Regions from separate parts of the Homo sapiens genome. Here all the other regions are linked to region 1. Evidence: fine-mapped expression QTL. A gene starts in region 1. Each other region holds a variant in brackets. All regions are shown on one strand. Distances are from middle to middle.

Region 1 (9,969 bases):
TATTGCACAGATACTCTCTGACTTCCTAAAAGGTGGCTTTGGCAATGGGGCCAGGGCTGCTTCTTGGTGTCAACCCACCTGCACGGAGGCTTCCCCAGTCTCTCGGTGGCCCAGGCTGCATTGCTGAGTTTCTAAGGGTCCGGGAATGAATCCAGCCAGTGCAGGCTAGAACACCACATCACAAATGACAGGTAGTTTTGTACAGGGTAAAAGTCACAACTTTTTTCCATGACCAATTTGTAAGCCTCACGATCTGCCATGCTGATTTACTGACCACAGGGTCACACATCCTCCAGCTGATAAGAAATGAGATGGCGTCTGCCGCATCCTCTGGCACCTGAGCTAATGCAGCTCTGTCCCCGGGTTGTCTGGGTCCGTGGGTTTCCTCTGGAGGGAACACAGCCGCTCTGGAGTCAGATGAGCCCTGAATATGGCGCCAAAGACAGCACCAAACAGCCTACTGTCACCACGCTGTCACCATGCAGATTGCTCATGCCCAGCCAACTTTCTGAGGTTGCAGGACACTGATGCCATATCTACATCCAGGCACCAACCTCAATTTAAAAAAAAAAATTTATTTTGAGACAGTCTCGCTTTGTCGCCTAGGCTGGAGTGCAGGGGCATGATCTCGGCTCACTGCAACTTCTGTCTCCCAGGTTCAAGTGATTCTCCTGCCTCAGCCTCCTGAGTAGCTGGGACTACAGGTGAGCACCACCATGCCCGGCTAATTTTTGTCTTTTTAGTAGAGACTGGGTTTCACCACGTAGGTCAGGCTGGTCTCAAACTCCTGACCTCAAGTGATCCACCCACCTCGGCCTCCCAAAGTGCTGGGATTACAGGCGTGAGCCACCGTGCCTGGCCGATCTTTTAAAAACATATTTACTTATTTATTTCATTTTTTGCTGTGCCACTGCCGGGTCACATTGATCTCCTTGGGCCAGCACTATATAAATCTCCAGTTTATAACTCGTCACCTTCTGGTTAGCTGAAAGGCTGGCCACTCATTCCACATGGTGTTTATCGGCTCTAATTGCCACGGTTGCTCACTAAAGAGCAGCCATGCGGGGCGCGGTAGCTCACGCCTGTAATCCCAACACTCTGGGAGGCCAAGGTGGGCGGATCACGAGGTCAGGAGATCGAGACCATCCTGGCCAATATGGTGAAACCCTGTCTCTACTAAATACAAAATTAGCCGGGAGTGGTGGCGCATGCCTGTAATCCCAGCTACTCGGGAGGCTGAGGCAGGAGAATTGCTTGAACCCAGGAGGCAGAGCTTGTGGCAAACAGAGATCGCAACATTGCACTCTAGCCTGGGCAACAAGAGTGAAACTTTATCTCAAAAAAAAAAAAAAGAAAGAAAGAAAGCTGCCATAATCCTGTGTCCTCTTTCCTGCTCACAGGTTCCCCGCTGCCCCACGTTTCTCCAGTGTGGCTGCCACGCACCAGTAAATCAGGGAGGGAGGTTTTTCCAAGCTGCAAAGCAGCAGATGTAGCTAAGACAGGGATCTCAGATTCCAGGCCAGGCAGCAGGCAGGAGATGGGGACATCAGCCAGGGACCTCAGCTTGGGCCACACCTTCCCCATCAGCCCCTACAAGCACAGCCGCACTCACTAAAAATTTCTCCAGCCAGACGCATCAGCAATGATCAAAGCTCCCCTTCCTCTCTTCCATCAGCAAAACCACAAAAAGCCTATCAGGCTGCCTCTGGCAGGAACTCAGAGCTCAGAGCAGGGGAGCAGCCTGCGCGAGGTTTCCAATCAGGCAAATCTGACTCTCCCCTTTTTAAGAGAACTGAAGACAAATTCTGAGAGTAGCCCACCAGACACACTTTCTCAACAACCATACGGCAAAAAAGTCGTTTTTGAACTTTCCCAGACTTATTAGCTTACATAAACAGAGATTTGAATAAATGTTTAAAAAATGAAATTCCCTGGATACCCTGTAATCAGTAAATGTTCATTATGGAAACACAGCAAATATGCATGAAATTTCCCAAGTGATATTCTGGCTACAAGATTATAAAGGCATCTCTAACAGCAGGCTGAGTTACAAAGCATCCTCTGTCGTCGGTTACAGTCCGAGGGGGATGTTCTACCAAGCCCAGGAGGTCAGACGAGCCTGCTCTCCTCTCCCAACTGGAGCCAAGGAAAATCAAAAGATGCTCATTTTGCCTGCTCAGGCAATTTATAAATGAGCCCCCACGCTGCCTGATGGATGCCTCTCGATAAATAATTAATCCTTGACCTTGCTTTAAGAAAGCCTTGACTTTTTAATTTGGGGTCTTTTTAAAAATCAATACCCGGGAAACATAATTCACTCTTGCCGAGTCTGATTCCAGGTTAATAAATAAATAAGTAAATAAATGAGCTGCACTGTTTGTGTGTCCCAGGGCGACTGGGCCAGGCAATGGGTCAGGTTCCGGCTTTGAGGTTTTTCTGTGTTCAAATGCTATTGGATAATTGATCAGCCAGTCCCACTGGAACCAACATTCAGACCCTCAAGAGGTCCCTCTCTTCAGGGTTCCAATGTTATTCCTCCCGTGGGTCACTTCACAGAGGCCAGTCTGCTGAACGCTCCTGAATGAACTCCCACGCCGCCTTCTGTGCTTGGGGTGTCCTGATTAAAATTAAAAGAGGATCTCCTGCTGGGATGAGTGTCCTTCCTGTGGCCTGTCTGCCTTGCCTTTGGGACAGGGCACAGGGTGGGCAGGAAAGGTCATGACAGCTGGAAAATGTTAAGGGCTCTGCCACACCTGCTCCACGGGTGCCCTGTCCTAGGGCAGGACTTAGGGAAAGACTTCCCCACAGGTAGGCAAGGGTCAAGGTGAACTCAGAAGAGAAAGGTTACCCAGGAAAGTGGGCTTGGTATTGTAGCTCCTGGGGGCCTTGGGCGGCGGTGGGAAATAAAAGGGGGTTGATCTGCCTCTTACCCCTCTGTCCCCCGCCCCTCTCCACCATCCACTCCAAAGCAGCTACTACCTCCCTGCACCCAACGCCTCTCCCACGTGCTCTGCTGCTGCGCCAGATCGCGCCAAGCAGATGGAGAGGGGCCGGGACGCGCGTTCCCCTTAACGGAGCTGATCACGGCTCCTGAGCCAGCGGGAGTGGCCCAGGGACGCAGAGTCCTCTGGGACGCCGGAGACGACTGCAGGACAGAGAGCCCCAGGATCGGCGCCTACTTCTGGGTTAAAACAGACAGCCGGGCAGCAGCGCCCACAGCCGAGGGCGCCGCAGCCGCTTCAACTCCGGGTCGGGGTCGCGGGCCTGGAGACAAGATGTACGCGAAAGTTAGGGCGGCGGGAGTCCCGCACTGGAGAAGGAATCGGGGTCACATCAGACCCAAGCCCCAGCATCGGGCACTGCCAAAACCCGTGATCGCCCTCCTGGCCCGGCTGGCCTCCAGCGAGGCCAGAGCGGGTCTGCAGAGTCGGTAGCCGGAGTTGCAGCCGCCGTCAGAGCTCGGCTCGGTCCCGCGGCCAAACGGATCATTTCCCCGCCCCCTGGAGCCGCCCCAGGCTCCGACTCCCGCACTCCCGACACACGCACGCACACACCTTCACACCATCGCTGACGCACGCACACTCGCCTCCAGCACTCACAGGCCGGTGCCCTGGAGAGTTGCGGGTCGGGGACGCGCGCGACGGAGCCGCTGGGTAGGAAGCCAAGGCCACTTAAACTTCCCCCATAGTCTCTGCCCGCCGCAACCCGTCCGGAGCCCCGGCTCCGAGCGCGCCAGGAAGCCCCAGCGCCCCGAGCGCTCCTGCCTGGCCCTCGGCGCTCGCTGCTCAGCGCCCGACGCCGCCTCCCCGCGGGCAGCACCGAGGGCCAGGAGGCGGAGCGGGAGTCCGCAGGGACCAAGAGGGCCCGAGGGACGGCAGTTCCCAGAAGCGCGGCAGCGAGTGAGATCCAAGGAGAGAAAGTCTAATTAAAGTTCCCGCTACCGGGGCCGGTCCCCAAAGTGCAACCAGACCCGAGCCCCGCGCGCCCACCTCCGCCCGCAGCTTCGGACTCCCATTCGCGTGCGGTGGCGGGGATGGCGAGCGGTGCAGTCCGGGGCCCGCTCGGGACCCCTTCCTGGCGTCTCTGCAGGCCAGGAGCCTGCGCAGGGCGGGAACAGGGGTGGGGCAGGGGCGCAGCCACTTACCTGGCGCAGCGGACGCACCCGAGGCCGCGGGCGCCTCCAGTCCGGGAGCGGTTCTCCGCGGCGGATCCTCTGCTTGGGGCGCGCAGGCGGCGGAGAGGACCTCCGACCCAGCTCGGGCCCGGTGCCTCCGCCCGCTCCAAGCGGAACCCAGTGCGATCTGTGGGCGAGCAGCGTGGGGCCGGCAGCCGGAGCGTGCGGGGAGCGAGAGGGCGCGGGGCGGCGTTCCTCTTCGGCCCCCGGCGCGATCGGTCCCCCACCTCCTGCTGCCGCCGCCGCCTCGTCCTCTCTCCTCCCCGCAGCACTGCCGGATCCGGCTTGCGCGCCGGGAAGGCTCCCAGCGAAGTGAGAGCGAAGCCTCCGGCGAGGCTGGAAATAGCGCCGCGCCCGCCCGGCGCCCCGCCCCCGGCCCGTGCCCCGCCCCGCCGTGGTGGCGGCTACGGCGGTGGCCGGGCCGGGCGGGGATCGCTCCAGCGATGCACTCGGCCCTCCCGGGGGCTCGCGGGCGCCGCGCCCACGCGCGCTCTGCGGCTCCCGCGGCCCCTCTGGCAGCGCTCTCAGAAAGAGTCGCTGCTGGGCGCGGTCCGGCGGCCGCGGGGGTGGGAGCGGTCGTGGCTGGGGCTGCGCCGGTCTCCCGGTTCAGGAGAGCCGGACTCCGGCCTGACGCTAGGCTCCAGACCGCGGCCAGTGCTGCCACTGCCTCGGTGGGTCGCACGCGGCGCCAACCCGGGAAAAGGACCAGGCGTCACCGGGGCGGGCCTTGACCACAGCGGGGCAGGGGCGCGCGCCCAGGACCCGATGCTGCGGGGGCGCAGGGCCGGTGAAAGGCGGAAGATTGATCCTGAGGAAGATTCTGGGATATCCCTGGGCTTCAGCTCGCGTGGAATTCGGTCAAGGCCGCGAGCTGCCTCAGGCCCGGGTGTCCGCATCCATCCTCAAATCCCTGGGGCTCTAGATTCTGCTGAAAGTGCCCTGCGAACAGGTGCTCCCTTCAGGACTTCATCCTGGAAGTTTGTGTCGGGTCACCAGCCTGAGAGCGGGGCCAACCGACCCTCTTCATACACACTCGGGAAAACAGCGTGGAGGGTGGAACCGGCCCACGGCCACACAGCACCGGGACAGAGTAGGGACAGGAACACGGGGCCCTGGATTCGGGTCCTTGTTCTTCCTAAGAAGAGGCAGCCCCAGCCTGCAGGGGACAAGCAGGCCTTGGGAAGGGGGGCAACTGCTTTCTCACAGGAGCTGGAGGAAACTGTGCACACAGTCACCTGTTAGTCTTGAAGGGACACTCAGTATTTTCAAACAACAGCAGAGAAGCCTTTAATAAAGTGAAAGACCCTTACTCTCTCCTCTCTAATGGTACCTGCTGGCTGGTTGGCCTGACTCCTACCAGCTGACCTAGAGTGAGTGATGGAATTGGGGAGTGAGCTGGGCCCATGGGTCTTGACTGACCAGAGTGGGGGACACCAGGCGGAGAGCAGAGCCACTCCTGGGGACGGCCAGGGAGCCCCTCAGCCCCAGGGCCATGAGGCCTCCTTAATGCCCCAGGTAAGCTCAGAGCATCCAAAAATAGACCAGGACAGATAAGAAGATAAATAGAAGCATGACAAAGAGATCATGGTCTTCCTTTAATTCTTGCAGCAACAGAGTAGACATTATCACTCCCGTATTACAGATGAGCGAATTGAGATGCAAAAATGCCACCATTTTGCTGGACTCCACGCATCTGGAGAATGGCCCAGGTGTGATGATTCCAAACTGGGATAGGCTTTGTTCTGGGGTTCCCTTTCCAGGACTTTAGGCTCGGAGTGACCCAGGCCTGGGGCTGCGCTGGGACCCAGGCACACTCCACTGGCTGCACGCATGAGGGGAATGTGTGTGTGTGTGTGTGTGTGTGTGTGTGTCTGAAATCACCCTCCTCCGCCTCAGTCAGGTGCAGATTGGAGGAGCTGAGTGCAAGGGCCAGGGACTCAAGTGTCAGGAAAAACAGGGCAGTGGAACCCTTATTCATCCTACATCCCAAAGCTGTTGGAGCAGAGCAGGAGAGAAGGTAGGAACAAAGAGAGGGGAGAGTGGAGTGAGCAAAAAGTCACTTGCCGGACTAGCTCACAGTGCAATGACCCCATCCCTGTCCCTGTGGTCCCCTTACCCCACACTTGCAGCCCCTCTTGCCACCCAAGGTCCTGACCATAGCTTGGCTGGGCAGCTGCCCATGAGCTCCCTGTCTGCAGTTAGGCCTGGAACAGAGCACACAACTTTTGCCACAGAGGCCTGATGGTCAAGAGAATCTCTTCAGTACCATGAACACTCCAGAGGGCAAATGCATGCACACACACACACACATGCACACACACGGAGAGAGAAAGAGAGACTTAACTGCAATGGGGAGATAATAGGAGCTCCCATTTCCAGAGCCCAGCCTCAAAGCTGGAAAGGGGGCTCTGGACCATGAGTACTTCCATGCGACAAGTCTACACAGGCTTTATTTCCCTGGGATGCATCTATACAGGCTTTGCCGTGACCAGTGAGTGGAGCGAGCCAAGCCATCTCAGCAACACTGTGCATCTGTGTGCCGCGATCCTCCTGGGAAGGATGGTTTTTCCATTAGCTTTCCCAACTGTACTTATTAGCACTTATTTGCATCTAATATTCAGGCAGACACCACTAGGAATCAATAACGCTGCATTCCTTTGACATTCTCTCCATTTTCCATTTTTAACTCAGACTTCCTTCTTGTTTTGAGAGGCCATGGGGGAAATCCCCAAAGGGGGCCTGAGGCCCCTGGCACCAACTCGCAGTGAGTTTTCCTCCGAGATTTGCCAAGGGCTGCGTGCCCTTTTTTGAAAGTCAGGCTCAGCCTCTGCAGCGAGGGAGGAGCAGGAAGGCTGCAATTCCCTGCAGGAAGCCTTGTGTGCTCACTTGCGATTTTTGATATGTGTGTCTCCACCGAAAGATTAGTGGCAAACTTGTCTCTTTGCATCCCAACTAAGGTGAAAGACATTTTTAGTGCATGGCCCCATGCGCCCACAGCCTAAGCCCCAGAAGGGCTAATAGAGAGGTTCAGGTGCCAATCTGTTTGCTGCAACAAGGATACAGGAAAGAGGAGGGGGCTTGGCTCTGGGACGCAGGCAGACCCCCGCCTCCACTGGCTCTGGGCTCCCTTTCCTCAGGCCGTTCCTGCAAGTGAAGGTTCCTGCCCGTCTTTGGGCTGGAGGCTGAAGGTGGCACAGTGGGAAGCTGAGACTGTCTCACATTGTGTTTGGCAAGACTGAGTCTTGAGTCCTGAACCTTCCATCTGTTGCCATGAGAGGAACCAGAACAGGCTGGGCATGGTGGCTCATGCCTGTAATTCCAGCACTTTGGGAGGCTGAGGTGGGCAGATCACTTGAGGCTAGGAGTTTGAGACCAGCCTGGCCAACATAGCAAAACCCCATCTCTACTAAAAATACAAAAGTTAGCAGGGCATGGTGGTGCTCACCTGTAGCCCCAGCTACTCAGGAAGCTGAGGCAGGAGAATCACTTGAATCTGGGAGGCAGAAGTTGCAGTGAGCTGAGATTGTGCCACTGCACTCCAGCCTGGGTGACAGCGTGAGACTCTATTAAAAAAAAAAGAAGAAGGAGAAGGAGAAGGAGAAGAAGAAGAAGAAGAAGAAGAAGAAGAAGAAGAAGAAGAGAAGAGGAAGAAGAGGAAGAAGAGGAGGAAGAGGAGGAAGAGGAGGAAGAAGAGGAAGAAGAGGAAGAAGAAGAAGAAGAAGAAAAGAAGAGGAAGAAGAGGAAAAAGAAGGAGGAGGAGAAGAAGAGGAAGAAGAAGAAGAAGAAGAAGAAGAAGAAGAAGAAGAAGAAGAAGAAGAAGAAGAAGAAGAAGAAGAAGAAGACGAGGAAGAAGAAGAAGAAGAAGAAGACTTGTTCCACAGAGGAGTTTGGGAGCCATCTATACTGGCAGGTCGGGAACACCTCATCTGTCTCCCTGCATCCCATGGGAGGAAGAAGGGAATGATGGGATGGGCCAGGAGGTCTGCTTCAGCTCTCCCAGGTGCCAGCTAGGGGGTCTTGAACTTGTCTCCTAACCCCTCAGAGCCTGTTCCCTGTATGCAGAGACAATAGACTGTCCCTGCAGAGGAAAGGTGAAGGGTGTCATGGCATTTTGGGAATTGGAGTCCTGTGACCAGACTGCCCTTAGCCACCCACAGACTAGTCACCTCAGGGTATGACGTGGCCTGGCCTTGCTTCCACGTCCAACATCTGGCCCTGTAATGGCCTCTGCAATATTGTGACCCCAAGGCTTCCTGAAGTCAGTTCAACACACAGACAGGCCAGTGACGTGCTGATCAGAGTGCCATCCAGGCGGGAGACTCCTCCTGGGAACGGACCTGCCTTCCTCAGCTGCTCTCTGGGGCCTGTGTGGGCTCCGGGCCATGCCTTCCCTCCCCAGGCCTCGACCTCCCCATTCGAAAGATGAGGGATGGGGGCCCAGGATCTGAAGGCCTGCTGTGCAATTCCATGATTCCTAAAAGTTCCTCACCAGGGAACGTGGCCCAGACTCATTTCCAGCCAAGGTATCCCTTGGCCACCTTATGGGATGAATGTTCCTTCCCAGGCCTTTTCCTCCTCTCTCCTTTCCCCTTTTCTGTCACCTCTTGGGTTTTCAAGGAGCTGGAGGGTCACTTTGTTTCCTTCTGAGTTGAGTTGTCTGAAATTTCCTGATGTCAATATGCCTGGGTGGGTATCCCCTGCATAAGCAACATTGCTGGGGGTTCTGGGCATCCCTGAACCCCATATACCTGTCACAATTTCGAAATTTCACCATCATTCCTCAGGGTATAAGAATGGTTTCTCTTGGCTGGGTATGGTGGCTCACGCCTGTAATCCCAGCACTTTGGGAGGCAGAGAAGGGCAGATCACAAGGTCAGGAGTTCAACACCAGCCTGGCCAACATGGTGAAACCCCATCTCTACTAAAAACACAAAAATTAGCCAGGCGTGATGGTGCACGCCTATAATCCCAGCTACTGGGGAGGCTGAGGCAGGAGAATTGCTTGAACCCAGGAGGTGGAGGTTGCAGCGAGCTGAGATGGCGCCACTGCACTCCAGCCTGGGTAACAGAGCAAGACTCCGTCTGAAAAAAAAAAAAAAAAAAAAAGGAATAGTTTCTCTTTAAAGAGAAGTTTTTCTGGGGCAGGCTAAAGTGACACCAGTCCTTAACACAGAAGAGAGTTGGTGAACAGATGTGGTTTTCTAGAGAGTGCACAACAGAAACTATGACTAACTTGCAAAGAAAGGGGAGACTTTATTTTTCTGAGACAGAATCTCACTCTATCACCCAGGCTGGAGTGCAGTGGCATGACCCTAGCTCACTGCAACCTCAAACTCCTGGGCTCAAAGGGTCCTCCCACCTCGTTCTCCTGAGTAGCTGGGAACACAGGTGTGCACCACCATGGCCAACTAATTTTTTATTTTTTATTTTCTGTAGAGACAGGGTCTCACTGTGCTACCTAGGCTGGTCTCGAACTCCTAGGCTTGAGTCATCTTCCTGCTTGGCCTCCCAAAAGTGTTGGGATGATAGGCATGAGCCACCATGCCCTGCCAGACTTTCTTAAAAGGACACTGGGGAATCCAACAGAGCAGAGAGGCGCTGAGTACCCAGGAGGGAAGAAGGCAGGAACCAGGGAATAAGGTTCGAGTACTCTGGGGGCAGCTGTTGGCTCTCTAGGATGGGTCGCCATCCCTAGAGCTGCAGACCACTCACTGCCTTGGTGGCCCTGATGCGCTCCCCACAGCCTGAGGTGGGCAGGCCTGCAGGGGGCTTTGCTGACCCCAGAGCCCAAGACA
Region 2 (9,969 bases), 52 kb after region 1:
GTGGGGTTCTTCTCTCAGTGACAGCCCAGTTATTCCAGAAAGAACCTGCTGATATTCTAGCCAGGAACATGGAGTGTGTTTGCATGGTGTGTGGAATGTGCTGTGGTGTGTGTGGGGGTTGGTGGTGGTGGGTGGGTGGTATGTGACTGGGGAAATGCCATATCTGGTGAGTGAAGGAGGCCTAGCAATCCACACTGTTCCCCAGACATCTCTTATGCCTGATGCCCTAAAATTCAACTCCTTGGTTCAATTTCCTAATAAAATGAAACTCCAGCCTCTCATCTCCTGGATATTGAGCAAGGAGAGAGACTCTGGCATTTCAGAAGCTCAATTTACAGCTTTTTCACCAATTCCTCTGGTTTTGAAATTTTTTGGTAAAATATATGTAACATAAAATTTGCCAATTTTAACCCTTTTTAGGTGTACAATTCAGTGGCAGTATGTACATTCACAATGTTTTGTAACCATTACCACTATCTACTTCCAGAAATTTTTCATCATCCAAAACAGAAACTCTGTACCTATTAAGAAATAACACCCCATACCTTCCTGCCCCAGCCCCTGGGAACCTCTATTCTACTTTCTGTCTGTATTTATTTGGCCATTCTAGATACTTCATACAAGTGGAATTATACAATGTTTTCCCTTTTATGTCTGGCTTCTTTTCCTTAGCATAGTGTTTTCAAGGTTTTTCCATGTTGTAGCATGGGTCAGAATTTCAGTACATCTTGGGGCTGAATAACACTCCATTGCAGGTATATATATATCTCACATTTTTTAAAATGTATTCATCCATTAATGGACACTTGGGTTGTTTACACCTTTTTGGCTATTTTGAAAAATGCAGCTATTGAGGCAGGAGAATAGAGTCTGGAGGCAGAGAACCTTAGGCTGATCCATGCTGACTTCCTAGAACTGAATCAAGAGGAAAACCCTACCTTTAAGTAACAAAAGGATCAGTGGCTACTCCCTTTGCAACTCCCAACCCCTTTTCTGCATTGCAGATGAAAGACGAAAGTACCTCTGATTGGTCCCCTCTTGCAACCAATCAGACTGGTCACAGACCAAGTCTTCATCTGTAACTTTGTAACTTCACTTCGGCTTCTGGTTGGCCACCTTCTGCAACCAATTAGACTGGTTGCAAACCACTACTTTATTTACATAGGGTGTAAACCAAGTAACCAATAAAAAAAATCTCTAGAGGGTATTTAAACCCCAGAAAATTCTGCAAGGGGGCTCTTGAACTGCTTGCTCAAGCCTGCTCCCACTCTATGGAGTGTACTTTTATTTCAATAAATCTCTGCTTTCATTGCTTCATTCTTTCCTTGCTTTGTTTCTGCATTTTGTCCAATTCTTTGTTCAAAATGCCAAGAACCTGAACACCCTTCACCAGTGACACTCTGCTTATGGGTGTACAAGTATCTATTTTCATCCCTGTTTTTCAATATCTTGGATATATACCTAGGAACAGAATTGCTGGATCACATAATAATTCTATGTTCAACTTTTTGAAGAGCCACCAAACTGTTTTCCACTGGGGCATCACCATTTTACATTCCCACTAGCCATGCACAAGTTTTTCAATTTCTCTACATCCTCATCAACACTTGTTATTTTCTGGTGTGCTTTTAAACTTTTTTTTCTTTTTTGTAAATTATAGCTATTCTAATTGGTGTTAGGTGATATCTCATTGTGGTCTTGATTTGCGTTTCTCCAATGACTAATGATATTGAGCATATTGGACTCTTGGACGCTGAACCATATAACTAATGATATTAGCCAATCATCTTGTATTGGCTATTTGTATATCTTTTTTGGAGAGACTTCTATTCAAATTCTTTGCCCATTTTTAAAATTGAGTTGTTTGGGGATTTTCGTTGTTGTATTGTCCATTTGCAGGAGTTTTTATATATTCTAGATAAAGAAGGATTTACTTCTGCCATTTAGCTATTTGTTTTCTGTATGTCTTACATGATTTTTGTTGTATAATTCCCCCATTGCTGCCTTTTTAAAAATTTAGTTGATTTGTTTTGTAGTGTATCATTTTGATTCCATTTTTCTTTCCTTTTCTATATGTGTTTAGGTTATTCTCTTAGTGGTTACCTTGGAGATTACAAATAACATCTTAAACTTATAACAATTAAATTTGGATAATAGTTTCAATAGAATATAAATACTCTGTTCCTATACATCTTCATCCCTCCTCTTTACATTATTATTGTCACAGATTACATTTTATACCTTATGTGCCCATTAACATAGACTTACAATTATTGTTGTATACATTAGTTTCTTAAATCAGGTAGGAAAAAGGGAGAAGTTACAAACCAAACCAAAAGTATAAACCAAAACCAATCCAAACCAAAGGAAGTTACAAACCAAGGAAAAATAATATTGGCTTTTATATTTATCTATGTAGTTACCTTTACCAGTGTTAGTGTTATTTCATCTTACAGCTTCAAGTTACTGTCTTGTGTGTGTGTGTGTGTGTGTGTGTGTGTGTGTGTGTGTATCCAGCCTGTTAGCATTTCTAGGGCAGGTCTATTTGTAATGATCTCCCTCAGCTTTTGTTTTTCTTGAAATGTCTTAATTTCTCCCTCATTCTTAAAAAATAGTTTTGCCAGATGTTGAATTTTTGATTGAGTTTTTTTTCCAGGACTTTCATATGTGACCCCACTGCCTTTTAGCCTTCAGGGTTTCTAAAGAGAAATCAGCTATTAAGTTTTTGATGATACCTTGTACGTGATGAATTGCTTCTCCCTTGTTGCTTTCAAAATTCTCTCTTTGCTTTGGTTTCGGCAATTTGAGTATAATATGTCTCAGTATGGATCTCTTGAGTTTATCCTGTTTGGAGTTTGTTGAGCTTCTTGAGTATCTATATCATATCTTTCATCAGATTTGGGAAGCCTTTAGCCACAATTTCTTTAAATATGTTTTTCTGCCCCTTTCTCTTCCTTCTTCTGTAATTCCTATAATGCATAGTTATAGTTGATGACATCCCATAAATCCTTCAGGCTCTATTTATTTTCCTTCATTCATTTTTATTTATGTTCCTCAGACTGGATACTTTCAATTGTCTTATCTTCATGTTTGCCGATCCTTTCTTCTGCCTACTCAAATCTGCTGTAGAATGCTTCCAGTAAGTTTTTCATTTTAAGTTATTGTATTTTTCAGTTCCAAGACCAGTTTGGTTCCTTTCTTATAATTTCTCATTATTGATATTCTCATTTTTTAGACATTATTTTCTCAATTTCCTTTGGTTTTTTAATCCATGGTTTCTTTTAGCTCATTAAATGTGTCTAAGATAATTGATTTAATGTCTTTGACTAGTAATTCCTATGTCTGGTCTTCTTCGGGGATGGTTTCTGTCAAATGTTCTTTTCCTGTGAACAGGTCATACTTTCCTATTTCCTTGTATGTTTTGTACTTTTTTTGTTGAGTACTGGGCATTCTGATTATTATTGTGGTAATCCTGGAACTCTAACTCTCACACTCCTCAAGGATTGTGGATTTTTGCTTGTTAAGGATGGAGCCATCCATCTGTGATTTTTTTCCAGATTATTTTTACAAATTGTGATTGCTTATTGCATGTGGTCCTTGAAGTTCCTGTTCCGTTGTCTCTGTCAGTCAATGACCTGACAAAGATTTCCTTAAATGTTTGGCTCCCAAAATTGTTGAGGTGAGGGGAGGGAACAGGGAAGTCATGTCTCTTTAAATCCCCTCACAGCAGAAAAGCTGCTCTAGCTCTTGTGATCTGAAACAATGGCTGGACTCTGTGCCAGTCCCCCAGAGGTCAAAAGGATCAGCAATCAAAACACACAACTCTAATTTTTGGAGGATAAGGTTCTTATTCCCCACCCTGGCACCAGCAAGTCACACCAGGAATGCAGGCCACTGTCCCCACAGCTGTTTGCCACGGGGCTGGCAGGTGGGGGATGGTAGCCAGTACGCAAACATGGAAATGTATTAAAATTCACCAGCTTCTCCATTAAGTTTTCTCTTGGATGCCGAACGTGTTCAACTAGACTGCAGAGTTCCAAAATAGTTGCTTTAGACAGCCCTTGCCAGATCAAAACTTGTTAGGGTGGAGGGAAAGATTCCTGCAGCTTCTAACTGCACTCTTCTGTGA[C/T]GTCATCCAACTCCCTTGTTTTTAATCCTCCTAAACTCTCATTCCCAGTCCCAGCTTCCGGAATCCATCCCCACCACTTGCCTGAGGTTCTGTGTTAATGGGCATGTTACAGGAAAGGGGTTTGGATTCAGACTCCAAGAGAGGGGGGATTCTTGGATCTTGTGCAAGAAAGAACTCAGGATGAGTCTGTAAAGTGAAAGCAAGTTTATTAAGAAAGTAAAGGAATAAAAGAATGGCTACTCCATAGATAGAGCAGCCCCAAGGGCTGCTGGTTGCCCATTTTTATGGTTATTTCCTGATGATATGCTGAACGAGGGGTGGATTATTCATGCCTCCCCTTTCTGGACCATAGAGGGTAACTTCCAGACGTTGCCATGGCATTTGTAAACTGTCATGCTGCTTGTGGGATTGTAGCAGTGGGGACAACCAGAGGTCACTCTCGTCTCCATCTTGGTTTTGGTGGGTTTCTTCACTGCAACCTGTTTTGTCAGCAAGGTCTTTATAACCTGTATCTTGTGCTGACCTCCTATTTCATCCTGTGACTTAGAATGCCTTAACAATCTGGGAATGCAGCCCAGTAGGTCTCAGCCTCATTTTATCCAGCCTCTATTCAAGATGGAGTTGCTGTGGTTCAAACATCTCTGACAGGCTCATGCTCACCAGTCTCCTCTAAAGCACCTCAGGTGCTTTCTCTGCTCTGCCTAGTAAGATTGCCTTCCTCCAAGTTCTGCCTTCTGAAATTCATTGAAATCTCTCGTTGCTACTCTCTCCTCATTTGCCTTTGTCCTTATTGTTTTATACCTTTTTAAATTGCTTCACTTTCATGGTGGCAGTGTACCCACCTGAGAGATTCTTCATGCCCACTGCACAAATAAAGACCACAGCATTGCAGTAAAGAAAGAGTTTAACTGACAAGAGGCCAGCCACGCCACACAGGAGACAGAGTTGTTACTCAAATCAATCTCCTCAGAAATTGGGGGACAAGGGTTTTTAAGGGTAACTTGGTGGGTAGAAGGTTGGAAAGTGGTAAGTGCTGATTGGTTGGGTTGAAGATGAAATCATCGGGAGGTGAGGCTGTCCTCTTGCACTGAGTCAGCTCCTGGGTGGGGGGCCCCAAGACCAGATGAGCCAGTTTATCGATTTGGGTGGCATCAGCTGGTGCACTGGAGCAGAAGATCTGCAAAAGCACCAATCTCAGATTTTGCAACAGTGACTCCTACACCATAATTTCTAATCTTATGTGGCTAATTTTTTAGTCCTGCAAAGGCAGTCTAGTCCCCAAGCAAGAAGGGGGTTTGTTTTGGGAAAAGGCTGTTATCATCTTTGTTTCAAAATTAAACTGTAAACCAAGTTCCTCCCAAAGTTAGTTCGGCCTATGCCCAGGAATGAACAAGGACAACTTGGAGGTTAGGAGCAAGACGGAGTTGGTTCAGTCAGATCTCTTTTACTGTAATAATTTTCTCAGTCATAATTTTGGCAAAGGTGGTTTCAGCAGGGTTGGGACAGGGAGGACAAAATGCCTGGGGTCAGGCACAGGTGTTTAGAGGGAACTCAAGGTTTTGTTACTGTCCAACACCTGATTTCAGTGCAAGGCAGCAGCTGCCATTGACTGTCATCTGTTCCTCTGGGTATTGGCTACCATGGTCAGTAGAAATGGTGGGGCAGGAAGTTGGCAAGCTTTTTGCCAACTAGTATGGCCAAGTCATGGCAGGAGGGTCAGCTCTGGGCTGTGTTTAGGGGAAGACGAGCCAGAGTGTGATGTCTGGGGCTCCTGGTCACATGACAGGAGGGGATGCTGAATCCAAGCAGACCGGAACCTAGTCCTGCTGAATTCCAGGGCAGTCTGCTACTGCAGCTTTGCTCTGAGTCCCGTGCTACATGCCTTAAACTAAACGCGTAAATAATAGGTGGCTTTGATGCTGAGTGGGTTCCTCAGCCATCTGGATCCAGAGAGGAGTGAGTGAGCCTCTGTGAGCTGGGCTCAGGCTGCCATGCCCATACCAGTGTCTAATTGCAAGCGGGTGTCAGTAACTCTCCCAGGCCTTGGGAAGGCATCTCTTTTTCCTGGTCTTTGGTGTTTAATATTAAGTTTCAGCCAAGCTCATGATCACAGCTGTTGTCAAAGTATCTGCAGGAAAATCCGTTTTTATTGAAGCTGAAAAGGTCAGTTTTCTTGGACGTCTCCATGGTGAAAATAATAAATGCAGCTCATTCATACCCTTATGATATTTAGGCTCTTCAGCTGGAATGACCCTTGGGAAAAGATGCCTGAGATTTTAATTACGTTTCTCATCCTTCCCACCACAGTTGCTGCAGGAGTGATGGGCTGGCAAGCCATTCCCCTCCCTGGGTCGTTAGGTAGAGGTCAGGGAGTTGGCAACCTTGCCAGGGGGCATCTAGCTTAGCCTGGGTGAGCCCCAGTGGACCTGCTGGCTGAGAAAAGCAGTTCACCCACTGGGTCTACAGTGTGGCCCAAAAGTTATGTGGCTTCTGCTCTTCAGGGCTTGACCCATCTTTGGCCTGAATTTGCAGAAGGAGGGGTCTCTCCCCTCTGCCTATCCAAACCCCATCTGCACATAGGGATTCCCTTGGGGGAAGGTGTGAGCAGCCAAGGCTCATATTGTGAGCCTTGCCAGCTTCTGGTCTCTGAAGATTAGCCCAGTATCCAAGGCAGCTCAGCAGCTCTGCAGTGAGACGACTAGTGTCAGAGGCGTGTGAACAAGAGCAACTCCATCTTGAATAGGAGCTGGGTAAAATGAGGCTGAGAACTACTGGGCTGCATTGCCAAACAGTTAAGGCATTTTAAGTCACAGGATGAGATAGGAGGTCAGCACAAAATACAGGTCATAAAGACCTTGCTGATAAAACAGTTTCCAGTAAAGAAGTGGGCCAAAACCCACCAAAATCAAGATGGAGGCGAGAGTGACCTCTGGTCGTCCTCACTGCTACACTCCCACCAGCGCCATGACAGTTTACAAATGCCATGGCAACATCAGGAAGTTACCCTTTATGGTCTAAAAAGGGGAGGCATGAATCCACCTTTGTTTAGCGTAACATCAGGAAATAACCATGACAATGGGCAACCAGCTGCCCTCGGGGCTGCTCTGTCTATGGAGTAGCCATTCCTTATTCCTTTACTTTCTTAATAAACTTGCTTTCACTTTACTCTACAGACTTGTCCTGAATTATTTCTTGAGCGAGATCCAAGAACCCTCTCCTGGGGTCTGGATTGGGATCCCTTTCCTGTAACGCTAGGAGTACAAGTGCATCTCACCTGGGATTCCCCCATGATGGACTGAGGCGCAGGGAGGGGTGATCAAGAAGGCAGAGAAATAGATGCTGAGAGGCCAGGCGCAGTGGCTCACGCCTGTAATCCCAGCACTTTGGGAGGCCAAGCGGGCAGATCACCTGAGGTCAGGAGTTCAGACCAGCCTGGCCAACATGGCAAAACCCCATCTCTACTAAAAATACAAAAATTAGCCAGGTGTGGTGGCAGGCACCCGTAATCCCAGATACTCGGGAGGCTGAGGCAGGAGCATCACTTGAACCTGGGAGGCAGAGGTTGCACAGTGAGCCGAGACTGCACCACTGCTCTCCAGCCTGGGCGATAGAGCAAGACTCTGTCAGAAAAGAAGGGAGAGAGAGAGAAAGAGAGAGAGAGAAAGGGGGGAGAGGAAGGAAGGAAGAAAGGAAGGAAGGGAGGGAGGGAGGGAGGAAGGAAGGAAGGAAGGGAGGGAGGGAGGGAGGGAGGAAGGAAGGAAGGAAGGAAGGAAGGAAGGAAGGAAGGAAAAAAGAAAAGGAAAGGAAAGAAAAGAGATGCTGAGAAGGCAGGGTGAGGCCCTACTCCAAGGAGGGCAGGCGGTAAGGAGTGCAGGGAGAGAACCAAGGCAGCCTGCTGTTTATGTCTTTGTAGGTATTCATTCCTCATGAATCCAAGCGATTAGTGTGTCACCACTATCTTTTGATGTTTACTAGTTTTGCCTGGTCTCTAGCAAACCCTTTCAACCTGCAGATTTAGATCTGTCTTCAGTTCAGCCAGGTTTTCCTCTTTTATTTTTGAATATTTTTTCTTCCTTGTTAGTCATGTTCTTTCTTCATTAACACCCATCCTCCTGATTGGATTTCCAATCTCTTTTCTTCAAAGCCGCTGCTCTGCCGATTATTGCTTCTAACTTCTCTGGTCCTTTTTTTGTTCGTTTGTTTTGTTTTGTTTTGTTTTGTTTTTGGTGCACTCTGAAAAAGCCTCTCAAACCTATGCTCCATGTCACCGAGTCCACTGTCTGCAGGGTTCTCACAGATTCTCCCTGTCGCTGACCCTTCTGCGATTTTGCTGTGATGTTTGTGTCCTTGGATGCTTTACCTGACTACCAGCTCCATTTCCACCACAGCTTGTCCTCATCCTCTCTTCCCCATTTGGTTTGCAGATTCAATGTTTTCATTTTGGAAAGAAAACCTTACATCTGTTTCCTGGAGTAAATATTTTTAGAATTCTGTTTTTTCTCTTTCCTTGATATCATGACAATACGGTTTTCTGCTCCATCTGTCTTTTCTTCAGGGGGCTGGATAGCTGAGCTCACTCTCATGCCCAGGCTTTTGCCTGTCAAGTTGAGGGCATCCCCATCCCACTGTGTGAGTGAGCTGCATCTCTCTTGTTCAGGAAGGGGGCCCCAAGGGCAGATGGAGCTCACTACAGTGGTGAAGGGGCCATTGGAGAAGAGGCCAGGCCACAGAATTCTGCCTGCTGGAAACACTGGGTCTTCACGGTCAACAAAGCATCCTCATGACTGCTGGTTCCCGGACACAAAAGGTGCTCATGAGCAGCCTACTCATGTCTAGCCCACCTCTGCAAGTTTGAGGGGGTTCAAGAAGGAGTTCCTCCATCCCAGGAAATGCTCACGTCAGCATCCCAGGGCTTCTAGGTGCAGCCAAGACTGTGCCCATGTATCTGAAGCTGGGGTGTCTGCAGGCCCTTAAGACAAGGCAGGCACTGGCCCCATCTCCCCAACGGCTGCCGCCCCTGCATGCTCACCCTGGAGAGGAGGACATGACTTTCCACTAGCGTGTCCTTGACTTTCTTTCCCACACCATGCTGCCTCCCCTGGAGAGAGGGCTGTATGTCTGCTTTAAGCCAAAAATTCACTCTGGTCTCAGCAGCCTAGCACCTGACAGAAACTCCTTGAAGTTTGCAAAATGTAGCTGACGCTTTCACTGAGTTTCAGTAGGACTTCTCCGATTTTTGTTTTCTTTTTTTTATCCCATTCTTCTCACTTCAGACAATGGCCATCTTCATTTATACATCTCACACCTGGTAAGTTACAGGCTATGTCAGTTACCACTGGCCCCGCAAATGCATTTTACATACACATCTATGACTAAGGAACGTAGTGAGTAATTTTTCCTAGTGAAATTTTCATAAGGGACAAAAGTATTTCGTATGCATGTAAGGGTGATGGCATGTCTCTAGGGAATTTGGAGAGAAAGCTCAGCTGCTTCTTCTAAACATGGAGAAGATCACAGGGCCAACCTCAAGTTCTGTGGCTTAAATTAATTAAGACAACCAAGACTTGTGAGGGCCTTGGGGTGCCTGACCCATGGAGGAGATCAATAAGTGAGGTTTAGGCATTATTTACTCTACCAAAAGTTATTATTCTTTTTTTTTTTCCTTTCTTTCTTTTTGAGACAGTCTTGCTCTTGTCACCCAGGCTAGAGTGCAATGGTACAATCTCGGCTCACCGCAACCTCCGCCTCCAGGGTTCAAGCGATTCTCTTGCCTCAGCCTCCTGAGTAGCTGGGATTATAGACACCCACCACCATACCCGGCGAATTTTTGTATGTTTAGT
Region 3 (9,969 bases), 70 kb after region 1:
CAGCACCAGCAGGGGACAGGGGCTTTCTCCCAGAGCCCCTGAGGATCCCAGATCAGGGGTCCAAGGACAAGACCTCAGGGCTCTGTGTCCCTGCAGGCCCAGCTCCCCGCCCACTGCTCAAGGCTGCCTACCCTCAAGGTGTGCCATGGAACATGTGACATCCATGCCAGCCCTCTTAAGGGACACTTCCATCCTTACCTAGGCATCCCACTGGGTCTGGAGGCCAAGGGTGGGGGTGGCCTCCTCCACGAAGGTTTCTTGGCTTATCTGGGACCACAGAGCACTTGATATGGTTAGGATTTGTGTCCCCACCCAAGTCTCATCTTGAATTATAATCCTTATATCCCCATGTGTCACAGGAGAGACCAGGTGGAGGTAATTGAATCATGAGGGCAGCTTCCCCATGCTGTTCTCGTGATAGTGAGTGAGTTCTCACGAGACCTGATGGTTTTATAAGGCGCTCTTCCTCTTGGGCTCTGCACTTCTTCCTGCTGCCTTGTGAAGGAGGTGTCTTGCTTCCCCTTTGCCTTCTGCCATGATTGTAAGTTTCCTGAGGCCTCCCTAACCATGCTGAACTGTGAGTCATTAAACCTCTTTCCTTTATAAATTACCCAGTCTCAGGCAGTTTTTAATAGCAGCATGAAAACGGACTAATGAAGCTCTCTTGTTTTTCTTGAGTCAGGGAAGAGCTGAGCAGATCTGGCCAGCCAGGTGATGGGCAAGACACAAAAGGGCCTCCCTCCGTGGGGCTGTGCTGGAGGAAGTGGCTCAGTGACACTGGGGTGGGGAGGGGAGGTCTTCTGGGAATGGATTGGCATGTACGGACTGTAGTGTCTAAGATCTAATAGACCCATGTCCTGTACCTACTGTGACAATGGGGAGCGGGGCATGCAGTGCTTTGGGTGGGGCACTGCCCATCCTAGTTGTGCAGAGCATGGTGGGAAAGGTCGAGAGGGCCTGTCTGTGTGGTGGCCCTATGGAAGGATGGGATGAGGGGTTCCTGGAGGGAGGGGTGATGGCTGGGAATCCCTAAGGCCATCACTGGGGGAAGGGGGTCTGCCAGGTCATTTCAGGGAGAGGAAGGGGTGTGCCCACTATCAGGCTGTTCCCTCTAGGACTCAAAGAAGGGGGCATGTAACCCAGACCCAGAGGCAGGGGGCACCTCTATCACACCCATTGTCATACACATGTTGAGAGCAGGGCTTGGCTGTGTCAGGTGCCCGGGATCTGACTTTCTCCCTGTGACCGTGAGGGTTTTATGTCCTGCTGGTCCTGATGTCCTCTGCACCGTCATGTCTGGGCCTGTGAAGGTGGCAAGATTTTCAAAGTCATCTGTGGAACATAAGCTCTAATGACAGAAAAGAATGTTTGAAATCAGGGGACCTCTGCTGAGGCTCCTGGGGCCGGGCAGAGAATGTCCTACAAGATGGGTGGCACCAATGTTTATAAGGACCTTCAGGACTGGTGAGAGCGCAGCCACACAGGAGCAGGCAATCTCCCGGCTAACAACACTCAGTACATGGGATGCGTGGATCCTGAGAAACACCATGGGGCATCGACGGACGCACCTCTGCTCTGCTATAGGCAGAAGAGGCAAGTATTTTGGTTCATGTGAGAGCATGCATGAGAGTGTGGACATGTGTAGGAGTGTGTGTGTGTGTGTGTGTAAGTGTACACAATGTGAGTATGCATGTGTATGACCATGCCGATGTGAGCAATTATGCATATGTGAGAGTGTGCGTGGGTGTGAACATGCCCCTGTGAGAGTGTGCATGTGTGCAATTGTGCACATGTGAGAGTGTGTGTGGATGTGAGCACGCACATGTGTGTATGTGTGACAAGCCCATGTGAGAGTGTGCGTGGGTATGAGCACGCACATATGTGTGTATGTGTGGCATGCCCATGTGAAAGTGTGCGTGTGTGTGTGCGTGTGCATATGTGTACATGTGAGTGTGTGCAACTGGGCGAGTTTGCACGTCTCCACTAAACTGTGCAGTCAGGAGGGCCTGGGGACCCAACAGCCAGCTGAATGTTTCAGCCCCAGCGCTCTTTTCAGCCCTTTCCCTATTAGTGGACTCATGGGACAAGCCTCCAGGAGTGGAAGGTGTCATTCCCACAAGGTAGACCTGGGGGCTATCCCTGAGGCCCGTGCTGCTATCTAAGACTAAGATGGTTTGAAGCCAGTGAAGAGAAGGCTTTCTTGGGTGCAGAACCACAAGGCCCTCACCACCCGCTAGCAGCTTTAACAGCTGTGGCTTCCGGGTGAAGGCTGCCGTAGGAGAGAAAACCTGCTCAGAGCGGGTGGGAGTTTGGATCCGCTTTTGGTCTTCAGTGCCCGGTGTTGGTGTGGTGCTGGTGGATGTGCAGGCCAGACACAGCTCAGCTCCAAAGGTAGGGCCCCAGGGGGATTTGCCTGGGAACACTGAGGCATCCAACAGCTCAGCAAAGAGCTGGGGCGATCGCTAAGAGGAAGGAGCCAAGTTGGGCACCAGAGCACCCCGCGATCGAGGCTCTCCCGCCCATAGTCAGATCCTACTGTGCTGGAGCTATGGCCGCTGCTCTTCCCCCTCCCTAGCCCCTCCTCACTTCCCTAGCTCCTTCCTTCCAGCCTGAGCTATTTGGGGAGGAACAATGCAGAACTGGTTTGGGCACAGTACGGGACCCTGGCTGAGCAGGAGGGGCCCTGATGGAAGAAGGCAAGGAGGCATTGCTGAGCCAGCAGGAACCGTGCTTCTGCCACCTATAAGCATGTGGGGGCAGGGCCTCCTTCTGGGCTGGGACATTGCCTGGTAACCTCTCCCTGTCTCCTCTGCCCACACCTTATACCAGCGACAGCATCCAGTGCTCCACAATGCTCCTGACGACGGCCATGGCTGCTGTTTATTGAGTGGTTAACTCTGTCCAAGTCCTGTGCTTGGTGCTATACACCAAGATATCTCTACTATACACAGATAATGACGAGGCATAACAGACCACGGGAGTGATTACTCTCTCCCTTTAGAGGTGGGGAAACAAGCCTGCGGGACTCATAGAAATAGAACTCTTGGTCACAGTCCTACAGCTACAGCAGGTTTAAGCCAAAATGGGATGTATTGGCTCATATATCCAAAAACTCTGGGAGCAGCCCCAGCTCCAGGTTCAGAATCTCAAATGATGCCACAAGGACCCTGTCCCATCCACATCTCTCTTCTAGGGTCTTCTCTACACTAGCCCCATTCTCCAGTGCCCACATGGGGCAAGATGGCAGCCTGCGGCTCGGGATCCCCAACCGTTCGGGAGTCCATCTGGGGCATGTGCAATGTCATTGGCTCTGATTGGGTCATGTGCTTAGCCCTGAACCAATCACCATGGCTGGAGAATGTGATGCTCTGATTGGTCAACCCCAGAGTTTTTGGGACAGTCAGCTGTTCAGAAGCAGGAGGACAAAGGCAGGAGGTCCCCAGAGAAGAACAGAAGAAGGTCAGTGACTGCATGCTGGATGGCAGGGCACAGACACCCACCACAAAGGCCAGAGCTGAGCCAGACTCCAGAGCCCCCCTCCATCTCTTCCCAACCTCCCTACGGCGCTTTGGGGTCGCTGGGCTGGCATGGCTGTCCCAAAATTTTTAAGACATGCCCACTGAAAAGTCCCTGACCGAGCCTCAGGCCTTGGGGACTGCATCTGTCAACATCACCTCTGCCCGAGATTTGGGGGAGGTGGAGGGTGCTGAAGGCAGGGATGGGGCCACTCCCACACAGGCTCTTCAAGTTGGGGCCCTGGGGAACCCAATCAAATTGTCACTGCAGTTATATAACATAAATATATGGGCTGTAATTATTTTTAAAAATATACCAATAAAATTGTCTCTGATTATTTTAGTCACAATACAAATCGCTTCAATTAGAGCAGAAATAGGGCGCGGGTTTATGGCTTCCCATGAATCTGAGAGTAACCTCGGCTCGGAGGTGGAAAAGCCGGCAGCTCCCTCTCGGCCCTCCGATGAATCCTGCGGCAAAATGGCCCCGAATCTAGTATGGAAGCAGCAGGCTGGAAGGAGGGAGAGGGGAAGCTGTCTGGGTCATGCGTGCAAGGCCTTGATGCCAACAGCTGGTTCCAGGCCTGTTGGGACAGGAGAGATCTCCAGGTTCACGGGAAGGCGTGATGTGGGATTGGGAACCCTGAACCCCTCATTGGTCCACACCCTCCCTATGTAGCCCCTGTCTCTCCCTCTGTAGTGGCATGAGTGGCCTGAGACTCTAGGGCCTAGAAGAGCCCCACTCAGGATGGAGCCTCTCTCCACCTCTCCTGGGCCTTCGGCTGTGGCCTGGTCCACCCAGTGCTCCCAGCCAGCAGCATCCAGGTTCCCCTTTATAAGATGGCAATTTCCACCTGCCGAGAAAGGGAGCCCAGTTGAGCCCTGAAATCCAGTCAACGCCCCAGTTACCAATGGGGAAACTGAGACACCAAGCAGAAGCATAGTTCAGGTCACACAACAAAGGAGCTGCAGACCAGAGAAGACTCCAGGCTCTGCCTCCCAGCCCTAGGAAGCCCCGGGAGAGGGTGGGGACAGAGGTCACTCTGTGGCCAACAGCCAGGCCCTCACCATCCTCCTGTCTTGCCCTACCCTTCTGCCCCAAGCTCTTCACAATGCTGAGACCCTCAAGAGCCCTACTGAGCCCCCTCTGCCCGGTCAGGGCCAAGGAGACCTCGGCAGACAGCCATCTCGCAAGTCTAGTTTGTGAGTTGGGCTCAGCCAATTAGATCGTGCTGTGGTCTGGATGTTCAGTCACTCCCCTCCAAATTCATATGTTGAAACCTAATCACCAATGTAATGGTGTTAGAAATGAGGCCTGTGGGAGGTGAATGGGATGAGTGCCCATATAAAAGAGGCTCCAAAGAGCTCCCTGGCCCCTTCCACCATATAAGGCACCACCTTCTACCAGAAAACGGGCTCTCACCAGACACCGAATCTGCCTGGGCCTTGATCTTGGACTTCCCAGCCTCCAGAACTGTGAAAAATAAATTTCTGTTGTTTATAAGCCACCTAGCTTAAGGCATTTTGTTATAGCAGCCCACACAGACTAAGACAGGTCCCCTTCCCCAGGGCCCACAGCCATGCTCTGTTCTCTGATGCTTTCCAGCCTGGAGTGTCATGACCTGCAGGAGACGCTCATCCCTCCCACCGTGGTGGTTTTGGAACACACTGCTGGCAACATCATTTGTCCAGGGACCCCCACTAGGGGAAAACAGCACTAAGGCCCAAGCCTCTCAGAGCCAGTACTACATAGGAGGTGCCCCCACACTTCCCAAGCTCACGGTGACCATGTGGCTTTGCTAAGAGAGCTGGCTGCAATATTCCTCTAGGCAGCTGGAGAGGAAGTCCCCTCCCTGTCCCTTCAGGCATGCACACAGGGGTATGGCAATGCGCCTCAGCCCTACCACACCTCCTCTACTGCCCGGGCTGGAGGGCAGTGGCATGATCTCGGCTCACTGAAACCTCTGCCTCCCAGGTTCAAGCAATTCTCCTGCCTTAGTCTCCTGAATAGCTGGAACTGCAGGCACACACCAACACACCCAGCTAATTTTTATAGTTTTAGTAGAGACAGGGTTTCGCCAGGCTAGCCAGCCTGGCCTCAAGTGATCCACCTGCCTCAGCCTCCTGTAGTGCTGGGATTACAGACGTGAGCCACCGCGCCCAGCCTGCACCTCCTCTTTTTGAGGAACATAAGCATTTTTCTGGCAAACACCAGTGAAAATGTTTTTGGAATTATTTTCCCATTGGAATTGCAATAAAAACACGGGTAAAGTTGGAGAGAACTTGAATCTTCACGCTAGCGGGTTTTCCCATCCGGGGAAGAACCATTTCTCTCTAACGAGGCACGTCTTTTTGCCCTTTTTATGGTTTTCTCTTTTTCTTTGTATGGGTCTGGCCTATTTCATGTTAAGCTGGTGTCATTTATCACTTTATTGATGCTGTGAATGAGGCCTTTTCCACTTTATTTTCCAGTCAGCTCGTCCCTGGCATGCAGGAAGCTATGGGTCTTTATCAGGCCACTTTTCCAGGCTTTCTTAGCAGTTCTGTTTTGCAATGAATT[C/A]TCTTGGACTTTCTGGGTAAATATAAACATTCTCTGCCAAGAATGATAATATTGTCTCTTGCTTTCTAATCTTTGGACTGTTTTTCGTTGTCTTTATTTCCAGTTGTACTGTCTTGGCCAAGTACCCTTGTTTAAGACATGTGGGGAGAGGGGTCACCTCCAGCTGCTCATGAGGCCCCCAAGAGCCCTCTGCACACCTGCAAGTCTCCTGCTGCAGCGTTCCCAAAAGCTCTTGTCTTTAGAACATTCTCAATCCAGGGCTGGGCATGGTGGCTTACGCCTGTAATCCCAGCACTTTAGGAGGCCAAGGCGGGCAGATCACCTGAGGCCAGGAGTATGAGACCAGCCTGGCCAACATGGCAAAACCCCATCTCTACTGAAAATACAAAAATTAGCTGGGAGTGGTGTTGGGCGCCTGTAGTCCCAGCTACTCGGGAGGCTGAGGCAGGAGAATCGCTTGGAGCCGGGTGGCGGAGGTTGCAGTGAGCTGAGATTGTACCATTGCACTCCAGCATGGGTGACAAAGCGAGACTCCGTCTCAAAAAAAAAAAAAAAAAGATCCTACCGAGGGCTGGTGGAAACACAGTCCCCGCCCCCCACAGTGGTGCTGTCTCCCCTTCCATCCAGCAAGCGTTTACTGAGCACCCACCACCGGACACACCCAGGACGACACCTGGGGATCCAAGGAAGACTGGGTGAGCATGGAGGAGAAGACTCATTGGTGCAGCAAGATGAACTTGTGCATGTGAGTGAGCAACTGGGGGATGGGGGTGGGGCACCGAGCTGAAAGGTGAACATGGCCCTTCCCGCTTGGCTCTACAGAGAGGGAAACAATGTAAGGGACAGATAGGAATCCCTGGTGGATGAGACAGGAGGAGCGTGCCGGTGAACCGCAGCCTGGAGGTGTGGAGGAACATGCCGCCCAAGTTCCTAAATCCAGCCAGCGCAGGATTTGAGGCTGGGGAGGAGAGGACACGAGGCTGGTGGCAGATGTGGGCTTGGCAGGGAGGCCTGAGACAAAGCGCTTAAATGTATCTGGAGGATGAGGGACTAAGGCATATGTACAAAAGGTCACTGCTATTCCTGGGATGGTGGGGGAGAGGGGCTGGAGCTGAGAACATCCTGGAGGATCAGAGAGAAATGGGCCTTTCCCAGATGAGAAGACTCGCTATTGTAAAGATTCAAGTTCTCTCCAAATTTATCTGTGGGTTTTTTTTTTTTTTTTTTTTTTTTTGAGATGGAGTCTCACTCTGTTGCCCAGGCTGGAGGGCAGTGGCGCTGTTTCAACTTCTGCCTCCCGGGTTCAAACGATTCTCCTGCCTCAGCCTCCCAAGTAACTGGGATTACAGGCACCTGCCACCACACCTGGCTAATTTTTGTATTTTTAGTAGAGATGGGGTTTTCATCACAACAAAATTAATGGCATTTTTTTTCCTCCTGACCCCAGGGAAGGGAGAAAATGGGCAACTCGCCAACTCCCACTCCCTACCTGCCCCCATCCCTGCTGTGGCTTCAGCTATACCCAGGCCTCCAGAGCAGAGGAGGGTAGAATAGATACCAAGGGCAATTTTCTACTCAGATAAACCATCATCATGAAATTGCATCACATACTGGTGACATTGAAAATAAAATTGTTTAATTTCTAATTTGGGGTAAACAAAAAGTTAAGGTGGCTTGCGTTGCAACGGTAGCAACATCCGGCAGGGTGCAGTGGCTCATGCCTGTAATCCCAGCACTTTGGGAGGCCGAGGCGGGTGGATCACAAGGTCAGGAATTCAAGACCAGCCTGGCCAAGATGGTGAAACCCCGTCTCTTCTAAAAATACAAAAATTAGCTGGGCGCAGTGGCAGGCGCCTGTAATCCCAGCTATTCGGGAGGCTGGGGTAGCTCGAACCTGGGAGACGGAGGTTGCAGTGAGCCAAGATCTCGCCACTGCACTCTAGCCTGGGTGATAGAGCAAGATTCCGTCTAAAAAAAAAAACAAAAACAGTAGCGACATCCACATTTTAGCAGCTGCTGGGAGGATGTCTCCTGGCTCTCAAAGCCCTTTCTGCCTTCTCTGGAAATGTACCCAAGACTCGGCCAGGCCCTGGCCGCAGCACCTGTGATTCAGAACTGGCCAAGTGGATTTTCTCTTCCAGGAACCAGAGGTGGTGAAGTTGAGTGCCTTATTCATGGCCAGTCCCAGGGAGAGGAAAACCCCAAAACTCCAGCCTCCAGGCCAGTCTGATTTTGTTCAGCAGTCTCTCTGGTCCAGAGAGCCAACTTCTCGGTGTTTGTTGGTCTGGAGCTGCCCACCATCCATTCCTTCTTGTTGGTGCCCTGATTGACCTGTGGGAATCACTACTCCCATGTTCTCAGTCTATGAGCTGCAGGTGGAGCTGCCCCGTCCACCTGGGCAGCAGCCTGTGACCCAGGGCCTCTGCCCATGAGAACACTGCTCTCCCGTGGCCACCAGGATTGGCCCTGAGGTGGGCATGTGCCTCTGGTCACATAGTCAGGCCTCATGAAGACTAATCCCAGGGCTTTTTTTTTTTTTTTTGAAATGGAGTCTCACTCTGTCACCCAGGCTGGAGTGCAATGGTGTGATCTCAGCTCACTGCAGCCTCCACCTCCTGAGTTCAAGCGATTCTTCTGCCTCAGCTTCCCGAGTAGCTGGGGCTACAGCGCCCGCCACCACGCCTGGCTAATTTTTGTTTTTTGTTTTTTTTTTAGTAAAAACGGGTTTTACCATGTTGGCCAGGCTGATCCCAAACTCCTGACCTCAGATGATCCACCCACCTCGGCCTCCCAAAGTGCTGGGATTAAAGGCTAAGCCACTGCACCTGGCCCTAGCCCAGGGCTTTTGTCTGAGCAACTTGGAGTAATCGTCTGCCATGTCCAAGTGGACCTGCACTTGGACAGGTGTAAGCAACCACTCTGCCACCATGAAGAGCCTAGGAAAGTCGTCCACAGAGTCAGCCAGAGCCCAGAGATTGTGCCTGAATCCAGCCCCACCTGAGGCCAGCCTGCCCTGGACAGGGGTCTACTCAGCCCGGGTGAATCGGGTGTTCTGCTCCTTGGCACTCCAAGAAACCTCCCCACAAACAGCATCTTTCCAGTAAACCCACCTCCACTCTTCTGGCTTAAGTGAATCCAAAGCAGTTTCTGTTGCCCAGCAGAAGAGCTGGCTCCAGAAGCCAAAAGGATAAGAACAGGGAGACCCAGCTCTAGGAGAGCCACAGATCTGGGGTTGTGACCAGTTCAGGGATGGATAAACCCAGCATTGGCCTTTTGCAGTGGGGACAGGAAGTGGAATCGCTTAAGCTGGATCCAGGGATGGGCCTGGGCATAGAAGGTTTGGGGGCCAGGTGGCTTGAGCTGGGCCTTGGTGGCATTTGGATGGGGGAAGAAGTACAGGTGTGGGAAGCCAAGCAGGCAGGACTAATTGGGTCCAGAGGCCTGGGCTGAGCAGAAGTGGACACGGTCTGGCGAGCAGGCTGGGGAGGTTGGTTTTGACACCAAGAAAATAGGACATCCCTGCAGTATGATTTACGCCGGATGGTGGATCATTGATTTAGGGTTTCTGACAGGTGTGCTATTCTGAAACTTGACAGAGAGAAACATTAAGTCCAGGAGTTCCCATTTTGCATCAAGCAATCGTATTTCTCTCCGCCTGGTCAATTCTACAGCCAAAGCACTTTTGTCCCCTGGAGGGAGTTAGGATGGATTTGAATTAACCAGGAAGTTCCTTGACTGCTATTTTAGAACTCCTCTCTGCTACCTGGCCTGACATAATAATTACCTGCCTGTGATTTATCTCAGGCAGATTATGAGTGATGATAGGGTTTGGGGTGATAATTGAGTGTATCCAGCACCCTACCTCCTCCCTTGTGATTCAAGCTGAAGCAGCCG

The links. PIP is the estimated chance that this variant, and not a neighbour inherited with it, causes the effect.
Region 2: its variant is fine-mapped to the expression of CHST8 in tibial nerve (GTEx, PIP 0.91).
Region 3: its variant is fine-mapped to the expression of CHST8 in ovary (GTEx, PIP above 0.99).

The regions. Positions count from the first base shown.
Region 1 is chr19:33,616,472-33,626,440 of GRCh38, reverse strand. CHST8 (carbohydrate sulfotransferase 8) reads right to left here and starts at 4,488. Exons shown (of 5, transcript NM_001127895.2): 1 at 4,145-4,488. RefSeq lists an enhancer at 4,783-5,527.
Region 2 is chr19:33,564,193-33,574,161 of GRCh38, reverse strand. No RefSeq gene overlaps it. Among named protein-coding and RNA genes, the nearest start is that of PEPD, 47 kb to the right of the region's middle. RefSeq lists enhancers at 6,185-7,016, 7,017-7,849. The variant C/T (reference allele first, on the strand shown) is at 4,130.
Region 3 is chr19:33,546,401-33,556,369 of GRCh38, reverse strand. LOC100996681 (a long non-coding RNA gene) reads right to left here and starts at 3,282. Exons shown (of 3, transcript XR_158931.5): 1 at 2,820-3,282; 2 at 199-1,302. The variant C/A (reference allele first, on the strand shown) is at 6,076.